Linked DNA regions of Homo sapiens. The protein of the gene in region 7 purifies or fractionates together with the protein of the main gene of each other region. This does not show direct contact. Each region holds a gene or a part of one and is shown on either strand. Other genes may lie near its edges.

The links.
Region 1: the proteins of EPS8L2 (region 7) and SLC12A4 purify together in Homo sapiens (co-immunoprecipitation; one large-scale study listed by IntAct). This does not show direct contact.
Region 2: the proteins of EPS8L2 (region 7) and CDV3 fractionate together in Homo sapiens (co-fractionation; one large-scale study listed by BioGRID). This does not show direct contact.
Region 3: the proteins of EPS8L2 (region 7) and EVL fractionate together in Homo sapiens (co-fractionation; one large-scale study listed by BioGRID). This does not show direct contact.
Region 4: the proteins of EPS8L2 (region 7) and RSRP1 purify together in Homo sapiens (co-immunoprecipitation; one large-scale study listed by IntAct). This does not show direct contact.
Region 5: the proteins of EPS8L2 (region 7) and KLHL13 purify together in Homo sapiens (co-immunoprecipitation; one large-scale study listed by IntAct). This does not show direct contact.
Region 6: the proteins of EPS8L2 (region 7) and SUCLA2 fractionate together in Homo sapiens (co-fractionation; one large-scale study listed by BioGRID). This does not show direct contact.

Annotation. Positions count from the first base shown.
Region 1 is NC_000016.10:67,948,138-67,951,637, reverse strand, and holds part of SLC12A4 (solute carrier family 12 member 4), read left to right. Parts: intron 1-333; coding exon 334-498; intron 499-577; coding exon 578-676; intron 677-926; coding exon 927-984; intron 985-1,144; coding exon 1,145-1,319; intron 1,320-1,719; coding exon 1,720-1,838; intron 1,839-3,478; coding exon 3,479-3,500. UniProt on the Homo sapiens protein: Mediates electroneutral potassium-chloride cotransport when activated by cell swelling. May contribute to cell volume homeostasis in single cells. May be involved in the regulation of basolateral Cl(-) exit in NaCl absorbing epithelia.
Region 2 is NC_000003.12:133,572,392-133,576,485, forward strand, and holds the start of CDV3 (protein CDV3 homolog), read left to right. Parts: upstream 1-1,294; 5' UTR 1,295-1,653; coding exon 1,654-1,893; exon of another isoform or gene 1,894-2,365; intron 2,366-2,647; coding exon 2,648-2,724; intron 2,725-4,094.
Region 3 is NC_000014.9:100,071,922-100,075,421, forward strand, and holds part of EVL (ena/VASP-like protein), read left to right. Parts: intron 1-3,500. UniProt on the Homo sapiens protein: Ena/VASP proteins are actin-associated proteins involved in a range of processes dependent on cytoskeleton remodeling and cell polarity such as axon guidance and lamellipodial and filopodial dynamics in migrating cells.
Region 4 is NC_000001.11:25,244,655-25,248,939, reverse strand, and holds the start of RSRP1 (arginine/serine-rich protein 1), read left to right. Parts: upstream 1-1,485; 5' UTR 1,486-1,631; intron 1,632-1,910; 5' UTR 1,911-1,976; coding exon 1,977-2,496; intron 2,497-3,638; coding exon 3,639-3,790; exon of another isoform or gene 3,791-4,285.
Region 5 is NC_000023.11:118,114,011-118,117,969, reverse strand, and holds the start of KLHL13 (kelch-like protein 13), read left to right. Parts: upstream 1-1,159; 5' UTR 1,160-1,462; intron 1,463-3,959. UniProt on the Homo sapiens protein: Substrate-specific adapter of a BCR (BTB-CUL3-RBX1) E3 ubiquitin-protein ligase complex required for mitotic progression and cytokinesis.
Region 6 is NC_000013.11:47,949,274-47,952,773, reverse strand, and holds part of SUCLA2 (succinate--CoA ligase [ADP-forming] subunit beta, mitochondrial precursor), read left to right. Parts: intron 1-3,170; coding exon 3,171-3,291; intron 3,292-3,500. UniProt on the Homo sapiens protein: ATP-specific succinyl-CoA synthetase functions in the citric acid cycle (TCA), coupling the hydrolysis of succinyl-CoA to the synthesis of ATP and thus represents the only step of substrate-level phosphorylation in the TCA.
Region 7 is NC_000011.10:719,731-723,230, reverse strand, and holds part of EPS8L2 (epidermal growth factor receptor kinase substrate 8-like protein 2), read right to left. Parts: intron 3,170-3,500; coding exon 3,008-3,169; intron 2,635-3,007; coding exon 2,485-2,634; intron 2,402-2,484; coding exon 2,322-2,401; intron 2,168-2,321; coding exon 2,025-2,167; intron 1,947-2,024; coding exon 1,879-1,946; intron 1,667-1,878; coding exon 1,540-1,666; intron 1,329-1,539; coding exon 1,240-1,328; intron 1,141-1,239; coding exon 1,066-1,140; intron 831-1,065; coding exon 682-830; intron 559-681; coding exon 426-558; intron 1-425. UniProt on the Homo sapiens protein: Stimulates guanine exchange activity of SOS1. May play a role in membrane ruffling and remodeling of the actin cytoskeleton. In the cochlea, is required for stereocilia maintenance in adult hair cells.

The DNA.
Region 1 (3,500 bases), on a different chromosome or scaffold from region 7:
AGCGTCCAAGGCCTGCAGCAGCCTGTCTTCCCCAGCCACCAGCCCCTGACACTGCCTGGGGATGTTCCCACAGGATCCATAAAGGCCTCTGTGGAAGGCGGGCAGTGGCGGGCTCTGGGTGACGGTGGTTCAGCCACCTTTGTCTGTCGACTTCTAGCTGGGCAGCTCCTTCTCTGTGGTCAGGGTAGCCCTGTGGCTGACGCTGCAGTCATTGGGCTGAAGCTGTTCCCTGAGTCCCCAAAGTTGCCCTGCATCTGCGCCTCTGGCTAGGCTGCCCCAAACTACCTGGGGTAGTGGGGGGCAGCTGTGGTGGTGACACAGCTACCCCTGCAGAAAACCTGTGGAGCGCCTACCTGGAGAAGGGTGACATCGTGGAGAAGCATGGGCTGCCCTCCGCAGATGCCCCGAGCCTGAAGGAGAGCCTGCCTCTGTACGTGGTCGCTGACATCGCCACATCCTTCACCGTGCTGGTCGGCATCTTCTTCCCTTCTGTAACAGGTGAGCCCTGCCTGCCTACCCACCCAGCCCTGTCCCCAATCCCGGGGAGCCCCTGAGGGAGTCTCATCTGTTTTTGGAGGCATCATGGCTGGCTCAAACCGCTCTGGGGACCTTCGTGACGCCCAGAAGTCTATCCCTGTGGGGACCATTCTGGCCATCATTACAACTTCCCTCGTGTGTATCCTTTCCCAGGCCTGGGGCAGGTGGGGCAGAGGACGGGAAGCGCTTGGCCTGTGTACGTTGCCAGGTCACATGCACAGACACCCCACACACTCATATATAGCTCCCCTTCTCATGCACACATGCACATACACACCACGAGACTCCCAGCTGTAGGTGTCCTGGTAGTCTGGCTGGGGTGGGGGCACGTGGTACTATTCAGGGACAGTGGGGTGGCAGAGGCCGAGTTTTCCTTGACGCCGCCGCAGACTTCAGCAGTGTGGTTCTCTTTGGTGCCTGCATTGAGGGTGTGGTTCTCCGGGACAAGTGAGTGAGCTGGGCCCCCCTCTTTAGCAGCGGCTGGGCTTTGGCCTGCCCTCACACCAGCTCCCAACCCCGTGGGTGGTCCTAAGCCTGCTGGCTGCCTTTGGTGGTCTGTGCCATCCTTCCGGACCCCTGACATCCCTCACTCTGGTGGCCCCTGCAGGTATGGCGATGGTGTCAGCAGGAACTTGGTGGTGGGCACACTGGCCTGGCCTTCACCCTGGGTCATCGTCATCGGCTCCTTCTTTTCAACGTGTGGCGCTGGCCTCCAGAGCCTCACAGGGGCACCACGCCTATTGCAGGCCATTGCCAAGGACAACATCATCCCCTTCCTCCGGGTGAGCCCCTCTGCACTCCCCCATGGCCTGGCTGCTCCCAGGCCCTCGCCCGGCTGGGGAGAGAGATAGGGAACACAGATGCAGCACGTCCTGCCCTTATTGGCCCCCGGGGCCAGGCGGCCATCCATGAGGAGCTACTGAGAAGTGCCCTGGGCCTGGCACTCACCTGGGCCTGGAGCTGCCTGGACCCAGAATCTTCATGGCCTGTTTAGGGCTCATCCAAAGGAGAGAGGCCTGGTGAGGTGGAATCAGGGAGACTGGTGACACCCATAGGGATAGACACAGGGGCGGCCTGAGCCCCCAAGGCGGGCCCTGGGGGTGAGGGAGGCCAGGCTGGGGTCTGGGGCCCAAGGTGTGGAATGGGGGTGACAGGACCCAGCTTCCTTCCTGGTGCACACAGGTGTTTGGCCACGGGAAGGTGAATGGTGAACCCACATGGGCACTCCTCCTGACGGCACTCATCGCCGAGCTGGGCATCCTCATCGCCTCCCTCGACATGGTGGCCCCCATCTTATCCATGTGAGCTGGGGCCGGGCAGGGCAGGGGGATGGGGAAAGGCTTCCTGAACCCCAGCACCTCCCCGTGGCTGCGTCTGGTGTTGGAGGTCCAGCTGGGAGATGTGGCAGGCTGCATGGGGAGATGTGGCCTGACAGGGCTCAGCCCACCCCTGCATTTAGGAGCAAGCCTGGCACCTATGCCAAAGCTATAAGGTGACCAATATGTCCACACCTCCCTGAGGCCCCCAGAGCAGGTGGCCGGCAGACCTTCCCACTGGACAGGGCAACCACCGCGTCCCTCATGCCTCCATGAAGCCACTGCTGCCCCTTCCATCTGTTAGTTTGTTTTTTGGTTTTTGTTTTTTTTTTTTGAGACAGAGTCTCACTCTCTCACCCAGGCTGGAGTGCAATGGCATGATCTTGGCTCACTGCAATCTCCGCCTCCTGGGTTCAAGCAATTCTCCTGCCTCAGCCTCCTGAGTAGCTGGGATTACAGAAATGCACCACCACGCCCAGCTAATTTTTTGTATTTTTAGTAGAGATGGCGTTTTACCATCTTGGCCAGGCTGGTGTCGAACTCCTGACGTCAGATGATCCACCTGGCTCGGCCTCCCAAAGTGCTGGGATTACAGGCGTGAGCCACCATGCCCAACCCATCCATTTTCAAAGTCATTTGCTTTTAACATTCTGGAATCAGCCAGGCAAATCTGCGTGCCAGTGCCTTGCAGGGAGTGGCCAGCATGTGGTGACTCCCAGGGACCCCGAGGCAGCGCTTGTTTGGTTGACTCTGTCCAGGCTGGGGTCCTCGCCCACCCTGCTCCGTGGCTGACGCTCCTTCTTGCTTGTGCGGTTATGAAAGGCCTCCTCTTCCCTGCCCACTCAGCCTGCAGACTTGACAGGGGCCCTGTACCCCTGAGCAGGCTCCATCCCAGCTACAGCCAGGCCTGCTGGAGCCAGCACCCTCTTGTCCACCCCCCCACACCCCTTCCTCTCACCCAAGAGCACACCTGAAACTGTTTTGCCACAGCCATCTTGGGTGGTGACCCCCCTTGTGCCCAAATCAGAGGCTACATCTCAGCCTTTATCTCGGGCCTCCTGCTGGGAGCCCCTGCCCCCTGGCATGCCCTGTGTGGGTCCTCCTGCCTTCCTGCGCACCCGTCCTCGGGTGCCTTCCTGGAGGGCTCATGCAGCTGGCCCTGCCCATGCGTGGGACTCCCACGCCCACCGCAGTGACTCTTAAGTATCTCTGACTGGTTGCATTCAAATGGTCCAGCTTATCTTCCATCCTCCCCTTCATGCATGGCAGCCTCTCATCCAGCTGGTCACTCAGGCCAGAGGCCTGAATGTGGCCTAGAGTCTCCAGGCACTGAGCTCTTCCTGCTGCCCCTGCACCACCCTCTTCAGCTCTGCCCTGTTACTCCCCTTCCTACCTCCTCCAACAGCAAACCCTTGCCCATCCTCTGCGATCTGGCTCCGAGGACTCCTCCACAGTAGTCTCATTGCCTCAGGCCATGGAGGTGGCAGCAATGAGGTTGAGAAGACCTTGCTGAGCCATGCAGGGCAGGGCCGGGCCACGCCCCGTTTCTGGGCCAGGCCCAGCCTGACATCAGGTCCCCAGCTGCCGAGGAGGCTGCTCTTCGCCAACCGCCCTCTGTGCCGCAGGTTCTTTCTGATGTGCTACCTG
Region 2 (4,094 bases), on a different chromosome or scaffold from region 7:
TGAGCCACCGCGCCCAGCCAGAAGTTAATTCTTTAATAGCAGTGTAAGTAGGGGGTAGGAAAAGAGAAACTTTAATGGGGTAACTGTAAAGGAAAAGACGAAGAAGTCTCTCCATTTACTGGCTGGATTCTATCTACCCCATATGGCTACCAACATTTGTCTGAGTCATTTCCTCAATGGTTGTGACAGCTCCCTCTTCTGCTTTTAGAAGGAGGAAGTAGAAAGTTTAAGAGCTTACTTTAGACCACCTTTTGCATATAGAATTCATTTCATTTTCAAGGCCCCAAGGGTATTTAAATGGGCTTTAAACCCATTTAAACCTGGCTTTCGCCTGGGCATTTTGGTCTCCACCCCTATGATAAGACAGTCCCCTCCTTTTATCAGGGATAGAAGCTAAGGATAAACTGTATCATCATCTAGACTCAAGTCAGGGCGTTAAGCAATGTGCTGAGCAGCTAATAATGTTGACTCTCTTCCCTCCATCCCCCTATCTTGTAAGAAATAGTATACCCACTTTACAGATTAGGGACTTGACGATAGGATTTATTGAACTTGACCTTGGTAAACATAATCCAGAGGGTGGAGTTCAGACAAAATCCCTTTCTACCTACCAACCAGCCTATGAAAGATCTTTTAGTAAATGGGACCTAAACTTCAGGCTCACTGCTCCTCTCACTTTCACAATCAACCGGTAAAGAAGAAAAGTAATGGTTGCCACTCCAGAGGGGGTGGAAGTACAGAAGCGATCAGAGGAGAGGAACAATCTTTAACACAGTTGGCTTAACGCAGTGCCTGTCCGTTTCGCGACAGTTCAAACGACTACTATGGGGCCACGGTTTGTTCTGGGCCAGGAAACACACGTGCATCCTGCGCATGCGTCCAAAAGGAACCCACTGCCCCTCCTGCTGGACCTCTTTAGCCAAGTCATCAACCAGCCCTCAACATGCCCGCCCTCAAGACTAAACCCTCGGCCAATCGGGAAACCGGAGTCGCCCGGCACGTCACTTATTTTGCATATGCCCTCCTCTCCCCGCCCCCATGCTTGGACTCCGCCCCGTCTGGGTCAGGGATTGTCACCTAAGAGCTTCGTCCTGGCACCTGATTGGCTCTCTTTCCAGCTCCGCCTCCATCTCCTCCCGCCGCCCGCCCCTTGGCGATCCCACAGCGGCAGGCAGAGCAAAATACGCAGGCGCAGGCGCTTCCTCTCTCTTCTAGCGGCCCGCCCTCCCTCCTCCCTCTCCCTCCCCTCCCCACTCCCTTCCCCTCCTCTCCAGGCCTGCGCGCGCGCCTCTTCCTCCGGCACGCGCCGCTGCTAGCCGAGCACTCTCGCCAGAACCTCTGGCTCGCGCGTGCCTTTTCCCCTCAGGTTGTGGGGAGAGCGGAATCCTGCTCCGCCGTCGCAGCAGCAGCGGCAGCCCCGGCAGCCTCGGGCGACAGCGGCGGCGCGCGAGCCCCCGGGCGGACCGTACCACCGCTCGCCAGCACGCAGGGGGAGCCGCCCGTCTCGCCGCGCACGCCTCGGCGACCCCGCGGGGCTGAGGCGTCGCCGCGCCCGGCAGCGTGAGCGCAGAGCCGGCCTCGACCCCGAGCTCGGAGCCCCGCGGGCCGCGCCCGCCGCCGGCCCCACCCATCCGGGTCGAGGAGGCCGAGGCCATGGCTGAGACGGAGGAGCGGAGCCTGGACAACTTCTTTGCCAAGAGGGACAAGAAGAAGAAGAAGGAGCGGAGCAACCGGGCGGCGAGTGCCGCGGGCGCAGCGGGCAGCGCCGGCGGAAGCAGTGGAGCCGCGGGTGCGGCGGGCGGCGGGGCGGGCGCGGGGACCCGGCCGGGTGACGGCGGGACCGCCAGCGCGGGGGCTGCGGGCCCAGGGGCCGCCACCAAGGCTGTGACGAAGGTGAGGGGCCGGGAGGCCGGCACTCGGGGCCCGGGCCGCGCGCCGGCGCCCCATGTGCCCGCCCCCGCCTGCCGGGGAAGCGTCCGGGAGGGGCCGCGGAGGCCGGGCGGACGGGCGCGGGCCGCCACGTGACGCAGGCTCTCCACCTCGGGCTGGGCTCGCCAGGGCCGGGACCCCTTCCGATATCCGCGGTGGAGCCGCCCTTCCCACCCCGCGTCGCTCGGCGTTAGCCAAGGCCCGGGCGGCGCCACCCTCCGGGGGCACTAGGTCTGGGGCCGCAGTGCCCAGCACAGAGCAGCGTTTATCGGGTGACGTCTAGGCTGAGTAATTCCGTGTGCTGACCTCAGCCCAGTAGTTTGAGCTGAATTTTCGCTTTCAGCAGCCGCATTTGTAGCAGCTCTTTTGTGATGACTTAGTCTCTAAGCCCGTGAAAGAAAAAGAAAACTCTCGGTGGCAAGGTTGAAGTAGAAATGTAGTTGTGAAATTCCTATTGACTTCTTCCTTCGGCTTTTCTTAGTTGCTTAAAGTAACAGCTCCCATGCAGGAACCCAGCGGAAGTATAGTGTTAGCCTACGAGCATGTTTGTCCTCCATTTAGCCTAGTTTGCCCCAGAACGAAGCAAGGGCTTTGACCAGAAGACAAGTACATACTTAGTTTAGGTTCCAGCCACTTGATCCACTTTTCGTAGTGTGTTATTTGCTTAGTTATATGTCTACAAATAGCTTTAATTGATCAAATGGCGTTTGTTTTACAGGACGAAGATGAATGGAAAGAATTGGAGCAAAAAGAGGTTGATTACAGCGGCCTCAGGGTTCAGGCAATGCAAATAAGGTATAGTCTGGTTACAAATGTGTTTAGATAACCTTTGGGATAGATATTGGATACAAGTTAGGTTTTCCTTTGGCCCCAAAGCAGCATCATAGTAGCCTTGTGCTCTAGATATGCTTATTAGGACTCAAATGGGTTCTGTCTACTCTTTCTCACTCCATGGAGGCAGCCCTTCCGTGTGCTCATGAAATTAGCTGCTGACTCTAAAATCCTGTGAGAGCTTGCCTACTTCCAGTTCTGGTTAGGACTTTTCATTTGAGACAGCTAAAGTGGATTTTGTCGCTTCAAAATTTTTACTTTTAACATCGGTGATTGTACTTAGTTTTGGTTTCAAAAGTAATGTGGATGTTTTTCACATCCTCTCCAATAAGCAAGTGAATATATGTTTTTGTAATTGAAGTATATCATACTTACAGAGAGATAGAGGTTTTATGTGTTCACACAGTGCAACCAACCTGTGCAATAAGCACCAGGTCAAGAAACTGAGTATTACTGATACAGAACAAGGTTCCCCTCCTAACACATACTCACTGCATTCACCTTCAACATAACCACTATTCTAACACCATAATTTTTTCTAAAACTTCATAGGAATGGAATTATATTTGTAAACATGTTATTTTTTAAAGTTCAAAAAAATAGTAATTTTTAAAAATTGGGTAGTTTAGAAGATTTGAAATTAACATTTTGTCAAGTCCAGTCTATGGCAGTCAACTTTAAGGTTGATGTTAAGTAAGTGCTATATTTTGGAGGGTTCATAAAGTAGGAAAAAACAAATGAAGATATGGTTCTGCTGTAAGATGAAAAAATCCTTTGCTCCCGGTTTAAAGAAATAAAGGATCTTGATAAACTGTCTCCAGTTTGAAGGTTGCATTTTATAGGCAATGCCAGTGAGTGCGAGGCACAGTGGAGGAAATACTTTCCTTAACTGAAAACTGTCTTTTGACTTCTCTGGATGTTAGTATCTATAGCTTTAGATAACTTACTCAAAAAGCAGGGTTAATATTATTGACATTTGTTGAACACCTACCACAGCTAGGCATTAATGTCCTACTGTGAAAACATCATTTTGTGAGCTTAACCAAAGTGAAACCCCCAGATTGATAATGGGAAACTTTCAGGAACGATGGCTTCTCCACTCTTGAGATTTCTTTGTAGTGGTGTTGAGTAGAAGTGATTAGACTTGAGTTTGATTCCCAACCACTTGTTGGCTTCCTTAATGTGTCTTTCTCTTTTCTGTCTCCTGGGGCTTGACCTGTAAATAATGGGGAGGAGGGAATGTGAGGTTCTTACCATTTGGTGTTGTGGAACTGCCTGTGTGTGTGGCTCCGGTTCTGTTGTAAAGTTTGGCTCTTCTTAAGTCTTTTCTTTCC
Region 3 (3,500 bases), on a different chromosome or scaffold from region 7:
ACCTGTTTCACACCTGTGCCCATTAAGAAAAAAAAATGGCACCCTATAAATGATTTAATAATTACTAAGGGGAAAATATAGCTTTCCATTGGAGATCTGGCAGTCACCTCTTAACCAACCTACAGTCTACATTCAGTTGGCCTGAATTCTTCACACACACAACATCTTTATCAATGAAAAATTTTTAAATAGTTTCACATCCTAGCTTAGCTTGAAAGGGAGTAAGCAGACGGCTCGATCAAATGTAATCCATGAGCAGATCCTACATCCCAAAAAATCAGAAACATTTTGTAAAAATTGGGTAACTTTTTTGTTGTTGTTGCATCGGAGTCTCCCTCTGTCGCTCAGGCTGGAGTGCATTGGAGCTATCTCCGCTCAGTGCATCCTACACCTCCCTGTGCCTCCTGGGTTCAAGCAGTTCTCCTGCCTCAGCCTCCCGAGTAGCTGGGACTACAGGCATGCGCCACTACACCTGGCTAATTTTTGTATTTTTAGTAGAGATGGGGTTTCACTATGTTGGCCAGGCTGATCTCGAACTCCTGATCTCAGGTGATCCACCTGCTTTGGCCTCCCAAAGTGCTGGGATTACATGGGTAAGTTTTAGTATGGACTCTGTATTAGATTTTTAGTAAAGTGTTGATTTTCTTTGTTGTAACAATGGTATTTAAGTTATATATTAGAATATCCTTATATTAAAGAAATGTATGCTCAGGTCCCTAGGACTGAAGTATCATGGTATCTGCAGCTGACTTTCAAATGGCTCAGGGGAAAGACAGAGATAACTCACATGTGGCAAATGTTAACCATGGGCAGGTTTAGTGAAAGGTAAAAGAGTGTCCCTTACATGTTCCTGTAGGTTTGAAATTTTTCAGATTAAAAAGTTGGAGTGAAAAACAGCTTCAAAGCAGGAAGTAAAAGTTGGAGCTGGGTTTTGCTGCGTCGCCAGGTGGAGCAGAAGAGCCTTACTGCACGGCGGAGCGTCAGGTTGCTGTCTAGTCCAGGCTCTGCCGCGGATCAGCCATGGGCGTTGGGCAGGTTACTTCCCTCTCCAGGCGTGTTTCCTAAGAAAATCACTGCAGAATGTTTTTCAGTTCTGATGCGGCTGTGATTTCAAGCGTCTCTGTTTCTCGGTCACTGAATTGGGACATGGCAACGTGGGTGTGCTTCCTCATTCACCTGGGTAGGTGTTGAGAAGTGATGAGGCCCCAGGGTGATGACTGAGGTCCCCCCACCCACCACTCTGCCTTTGCTGACACTCTTCCCTCTGCTTGAAATGGTTCTTTGTTTCCTCTTGAAAAGTCTTGCTTCCCCTTCATGACAACATCCCTTGGGTCCCCTGGGCAGAACTAAATGCCCTCCTCTTGTGACACTTTGCACGTACAGCACTTTTTCCTTTTTCTTTTTTTTTTTTTTTTGGGGAGACAGGGTCTTGCTCTGTCACCCAGGATGGAGTGCAGTGGTGCAAACACGGTTCACTGCAACCTTAACCTCCTCAGCTCAAGGGATCCTTCCACCTCAGGCTTCTGAGCAGCTGGGGCTACAGGCACCCACCACCATGCGTGGCTAACACTTTTTTATTTTGTGTAGAGACAGGATCTGTGTTGCCCAGGCTGGTCTCGAACTCCTGGGCTCAAGCTGTCCTCCCACCTTGGCCTCCCAAAGTGCTGGGATTACAGGTGTGAGCCACTGTGCCCGGCCCTTGTTTTATTTTTCAAATAAATGCAGGAAGAAAGAAAGAGAAAGCAGAGGTGGCCAGATCTCAAGTAAGTCATGCCACCCCCACCACAAAAATCCGTGGAGGCTGAGAAATACAATACCTGGCAAAACTCAGCAAACATAAAAGCCAGCAGTTATTCAAAGATATTTGTTGAGAAACCACTAGGGCCCAGTTACTAGAGCTACCGAGATGAACACTACTTTAAAAACCAAACCAAACAACCTGCCTCATGGAGGCACTTGCCCCTCAGTTCAGTGGCAAGTATGGTAAGTGTTCTGCAGAAAAGCTAAGCAGCTGAGGGGAGCGGCAGGGGCCCGAGGGTGTGCATTAGCATTCTCTTCAGTGGGTTCAGGGAGTCACCCCCGGGGGCGGTGGGGGCGGGGGGTCGGGGAGCAGTGTGAGTAGAGGCTAGAGGAAAGCACAGGAGCAAATCAGGGCCCGGAAACTGATTTCCCAACAGCCAGGGCTCAGGAGCGGGCCCTCAGTGACCTCCACAGTTGATCTGGGCCATTCCACAGACAGGACCCGACAGCCTGCTCCCACTTGGTGAGGCCTGAGGCAATTCTCCAGGCCACAGTGAGGAACCTGCCACCTTGTTTTTCTCGTTAGAAGTTAAAAGAGTAGTAGGTGATAATGACAGCTCTCCATGTGGACACGGAAGGCAGTTTCATGTAGATTCCACCCTAAGTCTTGCCTCATATGGATTTGCTGTTCATTCCAGCCAACATTGTCCTTTTTCAAGATAGTATCTGCTGGGTGCTAATCATGTTTAGTAAACTGCTCTCCTGTTTATTTCATCAGCCTTATTTGATCTCCAGCAAAGGTAAAAGAAAATGCAAAAAGATGATTCTACTTGTTTTACAGAGCTGTAAACTTACCTCCCTGAAGTCTTGTTGCTGGCAAACAATAGAGCCAGACCTGGGGCAGAGCTGGAGCTGTTGTCCACAGTGTTCTCACTTCCCCGCGCTGACTCCATGGTGAGGGCTGGCCTTAACTCTCTGTACCCAGCCTTGCTTCCCAGCACAGCACTGCTTCCTGGTGGGCACCAGCCAGCCAGACTTTCTCTAAAGTACTCTCTCTCTGTCTGCCCCTCTCCACCTTGGGAAAGACAGTGGTCAGAAAAGGGGCAGTCCAGAGAAGAGCCAAGCCATGCGGTGTCATGGCAGCCAAGGGAGAAGTTTCACACAGGAGGCGAGGAGGGCAAGAAGGAGGGCAAGAAGTCTGTGGCAAGAGCAGAATGGCGAGGCTGGGGCAGGCTGAGGGGAGACAGGGTGGGGCTGCCTGTGGGCAGAGGGGAGTTCATAGTGTGAGAGAGTTCTCCGAGAGCTGGAAGGAGAGGCCTCCAGATGGCAGGAGGCAGGGTCCTGTCCAGCAGTGTCTCTGACTTGACTCCCTGTGTGACTTGGGGGAGCCACACAATGAGAAGTGGGAATAAATGTGATAATGACCTCGTGATGGTGGTTTGAGCATTGTGTGAAGTCAGGTGAAGATGTCACCTATGTTACCAGAGCCAAGCTGCATGGCTGCAGGGGCTCTTCTGAACTAGCAAGTGATGTGCTTCAGAGAGAGACTGGAATTTGGCAAAGGAGAAAGCCCCTGTCTCCTCCTGTGTGCCGGGCCTTGTCTTGGGGCTCTGTGGGTAGACCCCAGCTCTGCTCTGCACTGGAGTGCCCAGACAGGTCTGTGTGAGCACCTCAGTGTGGGCTGCTCCGCTCCCATCCAGGAGGCTCCTTACTGATGGTTCTCAGCCCAGCTTTTAAGATTCACTTTTGTTGCTTGTATG
Region 4 (4,285 bases), on a different chromosome or scaffold from region 7:
TGATCTTAGGTGATCTTCCCGCTTCGGCCTCCCAAAGTGCTGGAATTACAAGCGTGAGCCACCGCGACTGGCCTCGTGTTATTTTTCTGTCCACTCACACAGCTTTATGAGAACTTTCGGCAAAGGTTTCTGATGGATGGGCATTGTATCTTCACTGTCTTGAGATTTAGAGAAGAAACTGTTTAAGAACTACTTCCATCATGATGCATCCTCAGGAGATGTGGATGAACTGCGGAGATGTGGGGTGAAGATGAACAAGAGATGAGTGAGTTTGTGTCTCCCTCTAAAGAAAGTGGCTTTTGTCAAAATGTACTTGTAAAGAAGTGTATAGGCTGGGCAAAGTGGCTCACGCCTGTAATCCCAAAACTTCAGGAGGCTGAGGCGGAAGAATCGCTTGAGCCCAGGAGTTGGAGACCAGCCTGGGCAACACAGTTAGATCCCGTGGGTAAAAAAGTGCAAAAATTAGCATGGTGGTGCATGCCTGTAGTTCCAGCTCTTCGGGAGCCTGGGCTGCAGTGAGCCGTGATGGCCCCACCACACTCCAGCCTGGGCGAGTGAGACCCTGTCTCAAAAAAAAAAAAAAAAAAAAAGGCAATTAACCCACAATTTTCAAGGCAATTGTTATGCTTTATTACAAGAAGTGTTTGAAATGCATCCCATTTGTAGATCCCTAGAAGTAAAATAGTCACCTTTGTTTACACTCACACCAAACACAGTTTTTGGAAGAGATATCGCAGACTTCATTATTATCCCCAGATTAAAGGTCAGTTTTGAGTCTTTTTATTTTGTCTCGACCTTATTACCTTCCTAGCCAAAACATGGAAGTAAAACATCTTTTCTACGTTAATACTGCATTTCCAGGGGTCTTGGGGTGTTCCGGGGGAGGGTGAGGTCCCCTCTCTGTCATGGCGGGGTGTGGACGCGGTCGCCTTCTCCTGGCGCCGCGGTACCTAGGACAGGAGGAAGAGGCCAGGAAGGGTCCAGGGAGGCTCAGGCCGGGTCTGCGACTTGCCGGTGGGTGGCGGCAACGACCCTGTGGGCACCAGCCCGTCAGACGGCCCCAGCTCCGAGCCCGGCTGCGAGCCCTCTCCAGCCTGCAGCCGCTCCTCTCCCGGCCCTACTCCCCGCCCGGCACTGACGTCCAGCCCCGCCCGTGCAGTGAGGCCAGAGCCTGGTGTAGCCCCACGCGGGGCCGTTCCATCTTCGAAGTTTTCTGGTGACTGGGTCGGTCCCGCAATTATCTCAGATCAGGGGGGAAGCCAAGGGCAACGGGACACCCTGATGTATCAAACACCTCCCCCTGGAGCCCCATCGCGCATGCGCACCCTGGAGGCAAGCGCTCGAGGCACAGGGCGCGGCTTGGGGAGGGAGGAGGCAGGGCGGTGGTTGGGCAAGAGAAGAGCCGCGCCCACCACGGAACATCTCTGCGCATGCGCCGGGGGCCAGCTTCTGGTACTTTTGACGCGTCTGCTAACGTAGTCCCTCAGTGCGCATCCGGACGTAGGAGGTGGAGGTTGTGGAATTCGCCGTTCGAAAGCAGGGACTAAAAGCCCCACTTCGTCTTACGTTCCGAAAGGAAGGCGTCTGTTGAGCCTTTCTCTCAGTCGTGAGGGAGGCGTCGACGGCGTGCGGTAAGTTTTCTGCTGACGGGGTCTCTCAGGACCACCGCAGTGGTCTCTCAGGAGTGAGGGACGGGAAACGTGCCGGGCCCCGCGTTTGGGGAACGCAGCGTTTCGCTTCAAGGCCGCGGCCTCAGGGCGCCGAGCGGGGTTTCTAGGGCTCGGTTCCTGTCGCGGCGGTCGCCGCCCGCGCCGTGGCTCCGCCTCCCGGAGGTTCCCCGACTGTGGCTTCCGGGTGGCCAGGCGCCGGCTTCCGCGACTCGACTTGTTTTTTCTCTCTTGGTTTTTTAGGAAGTCCTGAGTTGAGGCTTGCGGGATCCTTTCCGGAGAAAGCGCAGGCTAAAGCCGCAGGTGAAGATGTCCAACTACGTGAACGACATGTGGCCGGGCTCGCCGCAGGAGAAGGATTCGCCCTCGACCTCGCGGTCGGGCGGGTCCAGCCGGCTGTCGTCGCGGTCTAGGAGCCGCTCTTTTTCCAGAAGCTCTCGGTCCCATTCCCGCGTCTCGAGCCGGTTTTCGTCCAGGAGTCGGAGGAGCAAGTCCAGGTCCCGTTCCCGAAGGCGCCACCAGCGGAAGTACAGGCGCTACTCGCGGTCATACTCGCGGAGCCGGTCGCGATCCCGCAGCCGCCGTTACCGAGAGAGGCGCTACGGGTTCACCAGGAGATACTACCGGTCTCCTTCGCGGTACCGGTCCCGGTCCCGTAGCAGGTCGCGCTCTCGGGGAAGGTCGTACTGCGGAAGGGCGTACGCGATCGCGCGGGGACAGCGCTACTACGGCTTTGGTCGCACAGTGTACCCGGAGGAGCACAGCAGATGGAGGGACAGATCCAGGACGAGGTCGCGGAGCAGAACCCCCTTTCGCTTAAGTGAAAAAGGTGGGTGGGTCATTTACCTTTCCATTTGTGGTAATGTATGGTGGCAGTATATGAGTAGGCTAGGGAACCAACGTTGCTGTGTAGTTTCAATATTAGTTCCTTTAGTGCCCGAAATCTTTTTGGAGGAAAGAGGGAGGACATTACCTGTATTTAAGTGGACAGCATTCTCTTTAGGGTTAAAGGTCAACTGGATGTTAAATGGCTCAGGATGTAGGGAACTTTTTTTCCTATTGGCTGACTGTTCTTAGTGGGTGGAGCCTTTTAAATGTTATGATTAAGTTAAAGGTTCTAAGTTAACGTGATTGGGAAGAACAATATCAAAACACGCCTTCTTTTAGTTGACATTATTACTGAATAAAATTGGATTGTCGAGTATCCTAAGTGACCTAGGAGGCCGGGCGCGGCGGCTCACCTCTGTAATCCCAGCACTTGGGGAGGCGGAGGCGGAGGCGGGTGGGTCACTTGAGGCCAGGCGTTCCATACCAGCCTGGCCAACATAGCTCACTATCTAGTAAAAGTACAAAAATTAGCCGGGGGTGGTGGTAGAAATACACTTTAGTAGTGTATCAGTATTGGTTCAGTGGTTGTGATAATTATATAAAGAATCTACAGCAGAAAAACCTGGTTTTCAGAAATACATCTTTGAAGAGAAAGCAAAATAATATCACTATTAGCTAGAGAAAATTAAGTACAACAAAAAGACAAAATAATAGGACGCTCAGGCCTTTAGTCAAGAAAACAAAACTAATTGTTGAGATAATTTAAGAATTTTATTCTTTTCAGCAAGAAATGAGCTGGAGAATAGAATTTTCAGTGAATAAAGTTACACAGTTGTCCCTCTGTTCACTCGGGGGATTGGTGCCAGGATGCATATGGAACCCTCGCGCACACTTGGGGTTTACAGTCTCTCAAACACTGTGGTACTTTCTATCTGCATTTAGTAAGGGGGAGAAAAAACAAGTATAAAGTGGACCAGCGCAGCTACTAGTGTTCAAGGGCAACCTTAGTTTACCTATTATAAAACAAGTGACTTAATATATTTAATACCACAAAATAACATATTTATTGTGTAATTCTGAGTTCTCTTGGGAAATAACTACCAGATTAATGAGTATTTTAAAATCTCTCTCTTTTTTTTTTAGATCGAATGGAGCTGTTAGAAATAGCAAAAACCAATGCAGCGAAAGCTCTAGGAACAACCAACATTGACTTGCCAGCTAGTCTCAGAACTGTTCCTTCAGCCAAAGAAACAAGCCGTGGAATAGGTGTATCAAGTAATGGTGCAAAGCCTGAAGTAAGTATTCTAGGTTTGTCGGAACAAAACTTTCAGAAAGCCAACTGTCAAATCTGATTAGCCACTTATATCTTAGACTATACTTTTTGGGAAGTCTAGAGATGTATATAATGTGCTAAATTCAAAGTAGCAAATCTGAAGATAGGCAATGTCAAACCCATGAAAATGGGAGATTAATGAGCTTTATTTGGCCGTGCATGGTGCCTCATGCCTGTAATGAGGCAGATGGCTTGAGTCCAGGAGTTCAAGACTAGCCTGGGCAATGTGGCAAAACCGCGTGTTTACAAAAAATACAAAAATTAGCCAGGCATGGTGGTGCATGCCTGTAGTCCCAGCTGTTTGGGAGGCTGAGGCAGGAGGATCTTTGAGCCTAGGATGCTAAGGTTGCAGTGAGCCAAGATGGCACCATTGCACTCTAGCCTGGGCAGCAGAGCGAGACCCTGTCTCAAAAAATACATTTATTTTTTTCATTTTCAGTTAACAGTGTACTCTTAT
Region 5 (3,959 bases), on a different chromosome or scaffold from region 7:
CCGCATCACTTCCTTAAGAAGAAGAAGAAGAAAAAAACAGCCAAAGAAAAAAAATCACAATAGTGATTAAACTGGTTGCTAAGAGCAAACTCCCTTTATTTTCCCAAGGAGGAGTCTGGAATTATAAGTAGAAAGGGCAAAGGAATAGGTGTAAGAAGGTGGCCCCAGGCTGTAACCGTCAAGAAGGCAAAGAATGAATAGAAGACAAGCAAGGGGAAAAACAGGCTTGACTGGGGTTTTTTTTGGGGGCTAGGCTGATAGAGCAGAATCAAGATTCTGACTTAGAAGAGCAGTCCCACCAGAGTTTGGAAGCAGTTTGCATAGTGGTTAAGAGCCTGGGTACCAGAATCACACCGCTTGGGATCCTGAGTCCCGCTCTGCCACTTACTATTTATGTAACCTCTGGCAACTTGGTTAACCTATACACCTCAGTTTTGTCACTTGTAAAATGGAGACAATAGTGTGTAACTTGTAGAGTAGCTGTGAATTAGGTAAGTTGATGCTTCAGTGCTTGGTTCATAGCAGACGCTCAGTAAAATGTTAAACTGTTATTTGTAGTTTTTATCCTTCCTCTTTCTTAATGTTGTGTACTGCAGCAGGGAGGGGGAGGGATGAAGCGCTTATCCCACTAGAAGAGTGATATTTGTGTGAGAGCCTGGGTCAGGCTTATTTTGAGACGTGGGCCCCACTGAGGTGAGGTGGCACCGCTTCCAGGGCACACCCTTTGCTCGGGCCCCGCCGTGACTATGAGGAGGCCGAGGCCACGGCTGGCAGAATGCACGGGTGGACCTCCTTGGAGTGGCTAACCCGGGGCGGCTGCACTGTTGTCCCTGGATACTTGACACTTTTCACTTTTTCTGCCTCCCGGCACTAGAATCCATGTGGGCTCACACCAGAGCCTCCCGGTTTCCGAGGCGTGAGGGCCACTTAGCGGTCATTCAGCTTCAGGGTCCGGCCCTGTCACGCTTTCGCTACAGCCTGGGAGTTCCGTTCGGACCCCACACACCGTCCTAGCCCCGGCTCCCCGCCACCCTGCCTCCCGCGCAGGCGCCGCCGGGGCCACCCCCGCCGCCATGTTTCCCCCGCCCGCGCGCTCCCCCCCCCACTGCCCCCTCCCTCCCCAACTGGGTTCCCGCCCCCCTCCCTCAGCAGCCCCCCCACACCCTGGTGAGGTCAGGCGGAGGCTCTGCCGCTGCGGCCGCAGTAGCTCAGCTCCTATTCCTGGGAAGCCTGGAACGGGGACTTTTGAAAATAACTGCAGCGGCATTCGGGTTAGGGTCCGTGCTCTCCGCCTGCGCCAGGACAGGGTGAAGTGGTCGGGGCGAGCAGAGGGTGCGAAGGTGCGGGTGCTGGTGCCTCGCAGCAGGAGGGAGCCCCGGCTGCGCCGCGCGACTCCCTCTTTGGCCCTCGGAGCGCAGCACCCGGCGGACAAGCGGCGGGACGCCAGGACGCGGCGAGCAAGGTGAGGCAGGGTCCTGAAGTCACAGGGGCTCCAGCAGCCGCTTCCCTGCCTTCGGACCCGGCGCTGCGCGGTGCGCGGCGAGGAGTTGCGATCTGTACCAGGGGCAGAGGAGCAGAGGAGCAGGGAAACAGCTTCATTTTGCCCGCCGCCCCCTCTTTTTCTCCCGCGTGCTGGTGCGCGCCCTCATCCTTACACCTTCGCATCCCTTTCTGCCGGTCCCTCTGGCTCCGTCGGACGCCTGGGTTCTTCTAGGACCCCAGAACCCGGCTTTCCTGTGCTTCTTTGTCATCTCTCCAAGATCTTCTCCTCTGGGCCTCGCTGTTGCTGCCCTGACGGTCTGGGGTCCCGCTGCCCGCCCCGGCCCTACTGTCTCTTGCCCTCTAACAGTTTCTGCTTTGTGCCTCCTAATCCATCTCTCCTTCAGAATCTTCTAACTTAGGAGGCTCCTCTGCTGGCTCCCAAGTCAGGAGCACACTCCTCTTCTTCCTCGAAGCTTTTAACTTAGCTCTGAATGTCTTCAGCTCTGAATATTTTGACTTTTTTGTTTGTTTGTTTGTTTAATTACAGTTGACTAATGATTTTCTTGGAGGCTTATAGTCTAGGCTACAGTTTACTGAAAGTGATGAGATCATTCCTTCACTAAATAGCCTTAGTAAATATCAACTAGGGAACTTTAAAGTTTCTTTCTAGGTTTCATTAACTTAGTCCAAGAACAATAGCCACTTAAAATGTATGTATATATGTTGGTACGCAATCTTCGTACATGGTCCTAAATCTGATTCTTCCCTGGCTGCTGAGCAGGCCTGAGAGAGAGGATTGGTGGGAATTGTGATGCCTGGCTCCATTTCTCTAATTGTAAACTAGGATGTTAATCGTTTTAATGTAGTCAGAGGACTTTAGTGGTTTGGGATAAAGTCGCTCAAGTTAGCATAGGCTGGTAACTAAGCACATTGAATGGAGACTAAGAGACGCTGGGATTTAAAACTGTCTCTGGAGGGCACCTGCTTTCTTTTTTTTGAAGCCACAGTTTCTTAACAGTAGATTTCATGTTTGTATAAACCCTCTAAAAGCAGCATATTTTAAAACCACGTAGTTACAAAAAAGACTACTCACTCTTAGCGATATCGCTTTCTCCCCATGTAGTTGTGGTGTTAGCTCCCATACTGAGGTTCATTTGCTCACTTTCATACTGCAATTAGTGTGTGAAGAAAGCTGAATGGAGAAGCACAAAGTGGAGGCAAATACCAGTGAACAAGCACATGCTGACATACGCAGCTGTGTTTTTGGAAATAGACTGTATCTAGTGTTCAAATTTAAAAACTGAGAAAAATGAAATAATTCAGCATTTATGACATCATTTTACATCTAAAAATATTAGCTCCCTTAACTGCAAGTTCTTATTAATATCCTCATACTTAACGGTAAAAGAGTTGTTTGCCTGATGTATGACCAAGTGTTGCCATTGACACAGTGTGCACTAATTGGCAGCAATCTCAGAAGAAACCAGGTTGTGAATGAAGATAATGGCTAAATTTCACTGTCCTGGTAGCACGTCTTATGGCAGTGAGATGAGAGTAGTTTCTGCTGCAACATCAAATGATGTATTTAAAAAACAGATAAATAAGAGCTTCAATTATTAAAAAGCCCAAGGTTTTCAATCTGCCATTTTTATAAGCACACTTCAAAAAGTGTAGTGTGATTATATAAGGCTCAGTTGATGTTCTGAAGAAAGTAGTTTTCACAAGAAAAGTAAGGCCTATTGCTTATCAATTTAGTTAGATAACTTGCAGATGATTTGTAGTTTCCCAATTGATTTGGTAAATTCCTGAGTTTACTTGAGGTTTATTAAAAAATGGAATGTAGTAGGGAAAGGGTACTTATTCTAATAGGCCCACTTTCTAAGTCTGTAATTTTCTTAGCAAACTATTCTCAAAATACATAAAAACTTACAACTTTTTCAAGGAAAAGAGTTTATACTATTTTCTTACTTTTTTCTTTTCATGCTTATTATTGATACAAAATCTAAGCTAAGATTGCTGCTAATGTGATTGCATAGTAAGACTATTTATATTTGCCAGGAAAAGAATAAAGGTGGATGAGTTAGCCATAAGCATTTTGCTCTGAATCTTCAATATGACTCAATATGTGTTTGATAGTCCATCTGGTACACCTAGAGGTTAGCAGACTGGATATTTCTGATATTACTAAATGTAACTGCACTTACTTATTGGATTATCTTCTTTCTCATTTTATGTACATTTCAAATTATGCTTCTTCATGTAATTTGACTTGCAGTAGTGAAATGAGACTGACCAATTTTCAAATTGTTTGATTTTTATTGATGTTTGATAAACCACTAAAACCTCTTGAAAATATTTTTTTCTTAAATCCACTGATTGAAACCGATGTATTTTTATTGCTATGAAATAATACAACAAATTTCCAGGAATTATTTCAGAAAATGTGGAAAGACTGTAGAGAAATGAATAGCCCTAGA
Region 6 (3,500 bases), on a different chromosome or scaffold from region 7:
GATCCCTATTATCTATAGTTAAGGAGTTTGGATTTTAACTCCCTACCCCAGCACATACACAAGAGAATTCATAATGAATTCTCTTGTGGAAGAGATCCCTGACAAAGGCAATATCAGTAAGAATAAATTAGAGGCATTTCTGAGATAGGGTCATTAAATTCATTTTTTTTCTTCTTTTCTGGGAGCCTCATAGAAGGGTTGGTTAAGTTAACATTAGGACTTTGGGCTGGGGAGAATCATTGGGTGGTGATGACTTTCATGCTGTCAGAGGCAAAGTCGAGGAATAGGTATTTCAGAATGAATGTCAAGTTTGGATTGTGGTGACTATATCTAGTAGACAGTTCATTGAAAAGATATTGTACTTCCTATATTGGAGAAAAGTTGAAGTCTTAGGAGTTGGTGAGGTGATCTGTGCAAGTGAGATGAGGAACCAAGAATGGAACCTGGCCCCTCCATTTTTGTTGAAGGGTTGAATAGAGAAGGAAAACCCAAATGAAAAACAGAGAACAAATGACAGAGATAAGAACAGATCGGGAGAGAGTGGTGACATCGAAGGACCAAGGTGAAGAGTTTTGAGAAGTAAGGCATTGGGAAACAATGTCAAATGTTGTAGGACTATTCAGACAGAGTAAGAACTGAAAGAGGTGAGTGGGAACCTTCGTAAGAATAGTAGAAGAGATGGGGGCATAGGCCAGATTGTAATGGATTGATTTGATGAGGAATTGAGGGAATAGAGATATCCAGGAGAGATTACTCTTCCAGGACTTTTTTTTTTTTTTTTTTTACAAAGGCATGGAAGGGATGCAGTGCTATCAGTCAAAGGCAGTAGGACTGAGGAGAGTTTTGTGGTGTATGTTTTCTTGCTTGTTTAGAAGATCAAGAAGATGAGCTCTTTCTAGTTGGAGGAAGAGAAGAGATTTGAAAATAAAGAGAGTGAATGTAGCTAGAGGGGTGAAGACCTGGAGGAAATACTATGTAGTAAATAGATGGAGATAATTATCTGGCCAGGTCAGCTTTGGAAAGGTGGTTACTCCTTTCTTGAGGTGCCACTAAAGAAAGGAAGGTTGTATGCTAAAAGTTAGAGAGCTTGCATGGGATAGAAGGCTTATGAAGAGAGTTAAAGGTATGAGGCTGACTGCTAAGTTGAGGATTGCTGATGAATTATTATTTTATTGCTCTTCAGGTTATGCTAGTGTTTCCAGTTTTGTTTTCAGTTTTTACTTTTTTACTTTTCCCTGAATAAGCTATGGCTGGAATCATCCAAAGATGCATTGTTTGAAGTAGGATGGCAGAGGAATAGGTATGACAGAATTGAGCATGCAGGTGGCAGTGACACTGAATTGCTTAGCCATATGTCCCAGGCTCTATAGTGAAGAAAGTCAGTTCCATTGAGAGCTAATAGAGTAGAAGATTAGAGAGGGATTGAGGGACTAGAGGCTTTTTCTTGGGAGCGGGGGCGGGGTGGCGGACTAGAGGCTTTTAAGAAGAAAAGATTGTGTTTGATAGAGCTAGAGGAGAAAGGCATTAAAGTGAAAGGGGAAGGAGGTTGAGCGGAGAATGAGATTTATACATTTAATATTCTAGAGACACTCATTCTGGCCTAGTCCAGGATTTATCCATGGTAGTAATTCGTTTAAATTGACTACAGGTGAAAGTGGCTTGGTAGAGTAAAGATCCAAGAACTTTAAGGCTGGAGTGTTAGATGGTGCCTGGTGGTGAATATGGAAACTCTCCAGAATGAGGTGAGAGGGAGAGAGATGAGAGATGCCAAAGGCTGCTATGAGTTCTAGTCTGTTATGAATTCCAGAGCTTCATTTCTTAAAGGTCTGGGAATAATAGTGGTAAGGTAAAGAATGTATAGTATAGCTCAGTGTGTCTCACCCCTTTTCATGTCATGGCATTCACAGAAGGTATTTCAGTGGGGCCTTGGAGGTAGATGGAGAAGATTGCTTGTAGTCAGAGTCCACTGGCCCTGAGGCTCCTGCTGCCCCAGAACATTACTAGCTGCCCCAAGAATTGAGGGGAATGATATTTTGGTGTATCTACAATGCATTTTAATCTCATTGTTTGAGAAGCCCTGGTATAGCTGAGTGAACTAAACCTCTTTTTTTTAAAAAAGAGAGATTATTTGGAAAGGATAGGAGAACACTGATTCAGAACTATCATTGTGATGTTGAAAGAATGCTGACCCAAACAGGTCCTGAGATTTGGATGTGAAATGTACCCAAGAGAGGGCCATACAGGAGAAGCTGGGTGATTCTTAGGGCCTGGTTTGTGTAAAACGTTGATTACATTGATGGGGATTGTTTTGCAGTGAGCAGGTCTATGCATATGTACCCCCAGAGGCCAGGGGATCTGAGAGGCCAGAGAAAGAGGCTGGCAAATCCAGTTCTCAGAAAGAAACTAAATTTATATAGGGACTTAGAAACAGAAGCTATGGCTTGGGTGGCTGCGAGATGGTGGATCCCCACACTAGCCCTCCAGAAATTATCCTTTATGTAGTGAGCTTTTTTTCTTGGTAACACTTGCACAGCTGGTCACATCTCAGACCCTCTTGTCAAACTTGTGACCATTGAGGAAGTTAGGTAAACATCTTTATGAGTTGTCATTTATGCTACAGGCATTGTTTCTTTATAAGGGTTATCTATGTTACAGGCAGTATTTCTTGACCTTGCTGCAGAAGGCCTTGCTCTGCAGGAGTCAAACATTAGTCATTATGACAGTTTTGCTTCAGGATGGTGTTACTCTTGCCACACAACACGCCCTTTTCCTACAGGGATAAATGAGGAAATGATAGGTGACAAACACTAAATTGGAGATCTTGCACATGAGACTATCTTACAGTATGATCTGGGGGTAGTCACGTTGGTGAATGGCCAAATTTAACAAGAGAAAGTAAATGGAATTAGATGGTCTTGTTCATATGGGATATAGTAGAGAAGGAAATGTGAACTAGGTGTTGAAATTACCCAAGGAGATGGAAATAAGTTCTGGTGGGCAGTGGACTACATAGACTTCAATAAAGAGAGCTAGAAGAGGGTATTGTGGTTTGGTCTGAAAATCTTTCTATCAAGTTAATGTTTATCATGAAGCACATATACTAGTATTTTTTGGGGAAAAGAACTTAAATTTCTTTTAAATTTTAATCTATCAGAACACTTTATTCATAGGTACTGGCTATTCTGGTCAACATTTTTGGAGGAATCATGCGCTGTGATGTTATTGCACAGGGTATAGTCATGGCAGTAAAAGACTTGGAAATTAAAATACCTGTTGTGGTACGGTTACAAGGTGAGTATAAAAGGTATCTTGCAGTTGTTCCTAATTCTTTAAAAGTTCACATTTCCATGGAGTTCAGTTTGTTAAAACATAGTTTTTAAATAGCTGTGTCTTTGAAAGCATTATACAATATGAAATTAAAACTATAGTTTTTAAAACATTTTAACATTGGGGCAAAATGTTTATACTTTTGCTTGGTATAATTTGATACACTTTTTATT
Region 7 (3,500 bases):
GGTGGGCGACCTGAGTTAGACATGGGGCGGGGCTGGGTCCCAGGACGAGGGGGCATATGACAGGGGCTGGGCTAATGTCCTGTGACTGATGCATCACTGAGGGTGATGGAGCCTGATGCCCGGTGATGCCAGCATGGGTTGCCTCTCCTGGCAGGGGCTAGGGGCAGCTGAGCTGTGGCTGAAGGGGCGGTGGGTGGAGGTGGGCTGGGGAGGGGAGCTCTGGGGAGGGGTGGGTGTCGGGGCCGGGGAGGGGAGCTCTGGGGAGGGGTGGGTGTCGGGGCTGGGGAGGGGAGCACTGGGGAGGGGTGGGTGTCAGGGCTGGGGGGGGAGCTCTGGGGAGGGGTGGGTGTCAGGGCTGGGGGGGAGCTCTGGTGAGGAGTGGGTGTTGGGGCTGGGGTAGGGATGGGGGCTGCTGGTGCTCTCACCTCCTCGATGGGGGCAGACGCCAGCCCCTCCACCTCCCAGGGGGCCTCCTGCAGCACATCCACAGGAGGCTCCCAGCCGCTGTGGAACTTGGGCACGTAGAGGGGCACCTGTGGCTCCCGCGGCCACTCGGAACTGGGGTGAGAGGTCCTGAAGTCAGCCCTGCCTCTCCAGAACTGGCCCACCAGGACCCCCTTGCTGGCCCCCATGCAGCGCTGGCCCCCCATGAAGCCCCGGCACTGCTCTGCCCTGCCCTACCGGGGCCGCATCCAGCTCTCTCCCAGTGACTCCCACAGCGACATCTCCTTAGGGACCAGGTGGCCGCGCAGGAAGTCCACGGCATCTCGGGAGAGCAGTGGGCAGGAGACGGAGCGTGCGATGTCTGGGCCACTGCAGGTGTTGACGATCTGGGGCACAGTGAGGTTCAGAGGGGACTGAGGCCCACAGACCCTGGCCCAGCACCCCCGTAGCTCCACAGGCTGGCCCTCGGGAAGGGACTTTGGACCCCAGGGAGAGTGGCCACACAGCGTGAACCGGGCTGCCCAAGGCGGGCACCTGCTGCCCCAACCCCGACCCCGGGGAGATGCTGCAGAGGCCTCTGGGCCCCCACCCTGCGCGCCCCTGCCGCCCGGCCCCAGGCACCAGGTCCAGAGGCCCGAAGAGGAAGTGCACGAGCTCCGCGGCGCTGGGGTTCTGGATGTGCTTCTGCAGCTTTGCCTGGGGGTGGGAACAAGTGAGCAGGTGCCGGGGCGGGGCGGGGCCTCCACCCTCCCCTCAGCACAGACAGTGGGGCAGGGCTGGGGCCACCGGACCCACCAGCAAGTTAATCGCCAGCTTGATTTTCTGGAAGCAGTCGATGAACTCGCCCTCAGAGGGGGGCCGTGCCCGCAGTGTGAGGACGCCCTCTGGCATGGGAGGCACCGCGTGAGCCAGGCTGGCCCTGATCTCCCCGGCCCCTGCGCCTTCTGTCCCACGCAGCCCATCTGTGTGGGCTGGACCTTCCTCCACCTCCATGAGTAGCCCCCATGGATGTCCCTGGCCCCGTCCCCGTCCCTGTCCCCTGCACCTGCTGGCCCCGTCCCCTGCACCTGCCGGCCCCGTCCCTGTCCCCTGCACCTGCTGGCGCCTTCTTGCCCTTCTTCTTCCCCTTTTTCCGCTGGTTCAGCTGCTTGAAAGCCTCGGCTGCCTTCTGCAGCCGGGCCACAAACCACTCGATGTCGTCCAGGGCGCAGTTGAGGATTTGCTGGGGTCAGAGGGGGTCAGGGGTCAGCCCCTGACACTCCCCACCGCCCCGCCTTGCTGCAGGGACAGCCCCACAGATGATGGGAGGAGCTGGGCCCCACACCTTCGGAGGGGCAGCCACAGGCTGGGGACTGGCCGGAGGGACAGCAAGGACCAGTGTCCACTGCTGGGGGCGGGGAAGAGAGGGGCCACCTGCCGGGCCCGGGCACCCACCGTCTCCTTCTCTATCTTCTGAGCCAGCACGGCCCGCGGCTCCTCCTGCGACTCCCGACGGCGGAAACCTGATGGGGGACACGGCGGCTGCTCACCGAGCCCCCCACAACGAGCCCTGTGGAGCCCCCTCCAGCCCCTCGGCCCACCTGGCTCGCTGAGTGGCACCTGCGGGCCCACGCGATTCTTGGCCTCCGGGGAATCCCCGCCGCGGTGCTGGAAGGGGATGGGCGCCGGGCCCTGGGGAGGAGGCAGGATGGACTGCCGCTGCCGAATCTTCTCCTGGTGTCCCCTGGAGGGCGAGGGGGTCCTGCTCAGCCCCGCCGGGAACGCACCTGACCCTCCCTCCCTGCCGGGCTCCTCCCCTCCCCTGCCGGCTCCTCCCCTCCCCTGCCGGGCTCCTCCCCTCCCCGCCCCCTGCGACCCCGCTCCGCCCGCTGCCCTACTTCAGGGTCTGCGGCCGCATCTTCTTGCCCAGCCGGCAGTCGGCCAACGCGCTCTCGATGTCCTCGTGCACCAGCTCTGCCTGGGAAAGCGGGCGTCAGGCGGCCAGGAGGGCGGGGCGCGGCGCGGCGGGGCCCCACCCTGCCCCGCCCGGCACCGCCTCACCTCCACCTCATCGCAGTGGAAGAAGTGGACATCCGGCTTGCTCTGCTCCGAGTCCTGGCACACGAGCAGCAGCACAGACGGGTAGCGCAGCTGGTTGAGGACCGTCTGGCTGCGCTGCACCGTGGGCAGCGGGAAGTCTTCCAGCTCCTCCTGCGGGTACATCGCGCGGACACGACTCGCACCCGGGGTCTGGGCACTCTGGCAGGGAGTGGCCGGAGCTGTGGACAAGCCTGGAGCACAGGCCCCTCTGGCGCCGCTGGGGAATGGGCTCCCAAAGATGAGGACTAGGCCCGGGACACACCCCGCAGCTGTACCGCAAGGCTGACCCCGGCTTCCAAACTTCCCTGGACTCTCAGCTCTATGCGGCCCTCTGCCCACCCTTGTCCCATCCTCTTCCAGGGACCAGAATGATAGGGCATGGCCGGCCCTGCAGAGAGGACCGGCCGCACATCCGGGCTGCAGCCGGTGGCTGCCACCGCCTCTACCCACTGTGCTCCCTGTCCCCCGTGGCGCTGGGCCCCACCTGTGACTCGATGTCCAGCAGCCGCAGCGACTGGTCGTTCACCTGCAGCAGCATCTCCTGGGTCCAGATCTTCTCCTTGGAGCTCAGCTGCACCAGCTTCCGGATGGCGTCGTCCACAGACGTGATGGCTTCGCTCTTGTCCATGATGAATGTGGCCAGGTGCTGGGGGTGGGCAGGTGGTCACTGCTGGGCAGAGCCCTCCTTGTGTCGAAAGCCCAGCCCCCAGGGGCCACAGCCTGAGGGGCTGAGGGGCCACAGCCAACCCTGGGTAGGGGGCTAGAACGGGGACCGGCCCCGCCTTTGGTGGGGGGAGTCTCTATTCTGCCTTGGCAGGCATCTGTAGGGGCCATGCTTGTGTCCTGAAACTATCCTCAAAGGAATTCCAACTGCTGCCCGGCCCCGCGCCACCATCCTCACCCGCCCACCTCCTGGTGCAGGCTCAGTACCCGCCCACTGCACCAGCTTTGCCAGCCTCCCCAGCTCTCTTCCTTCT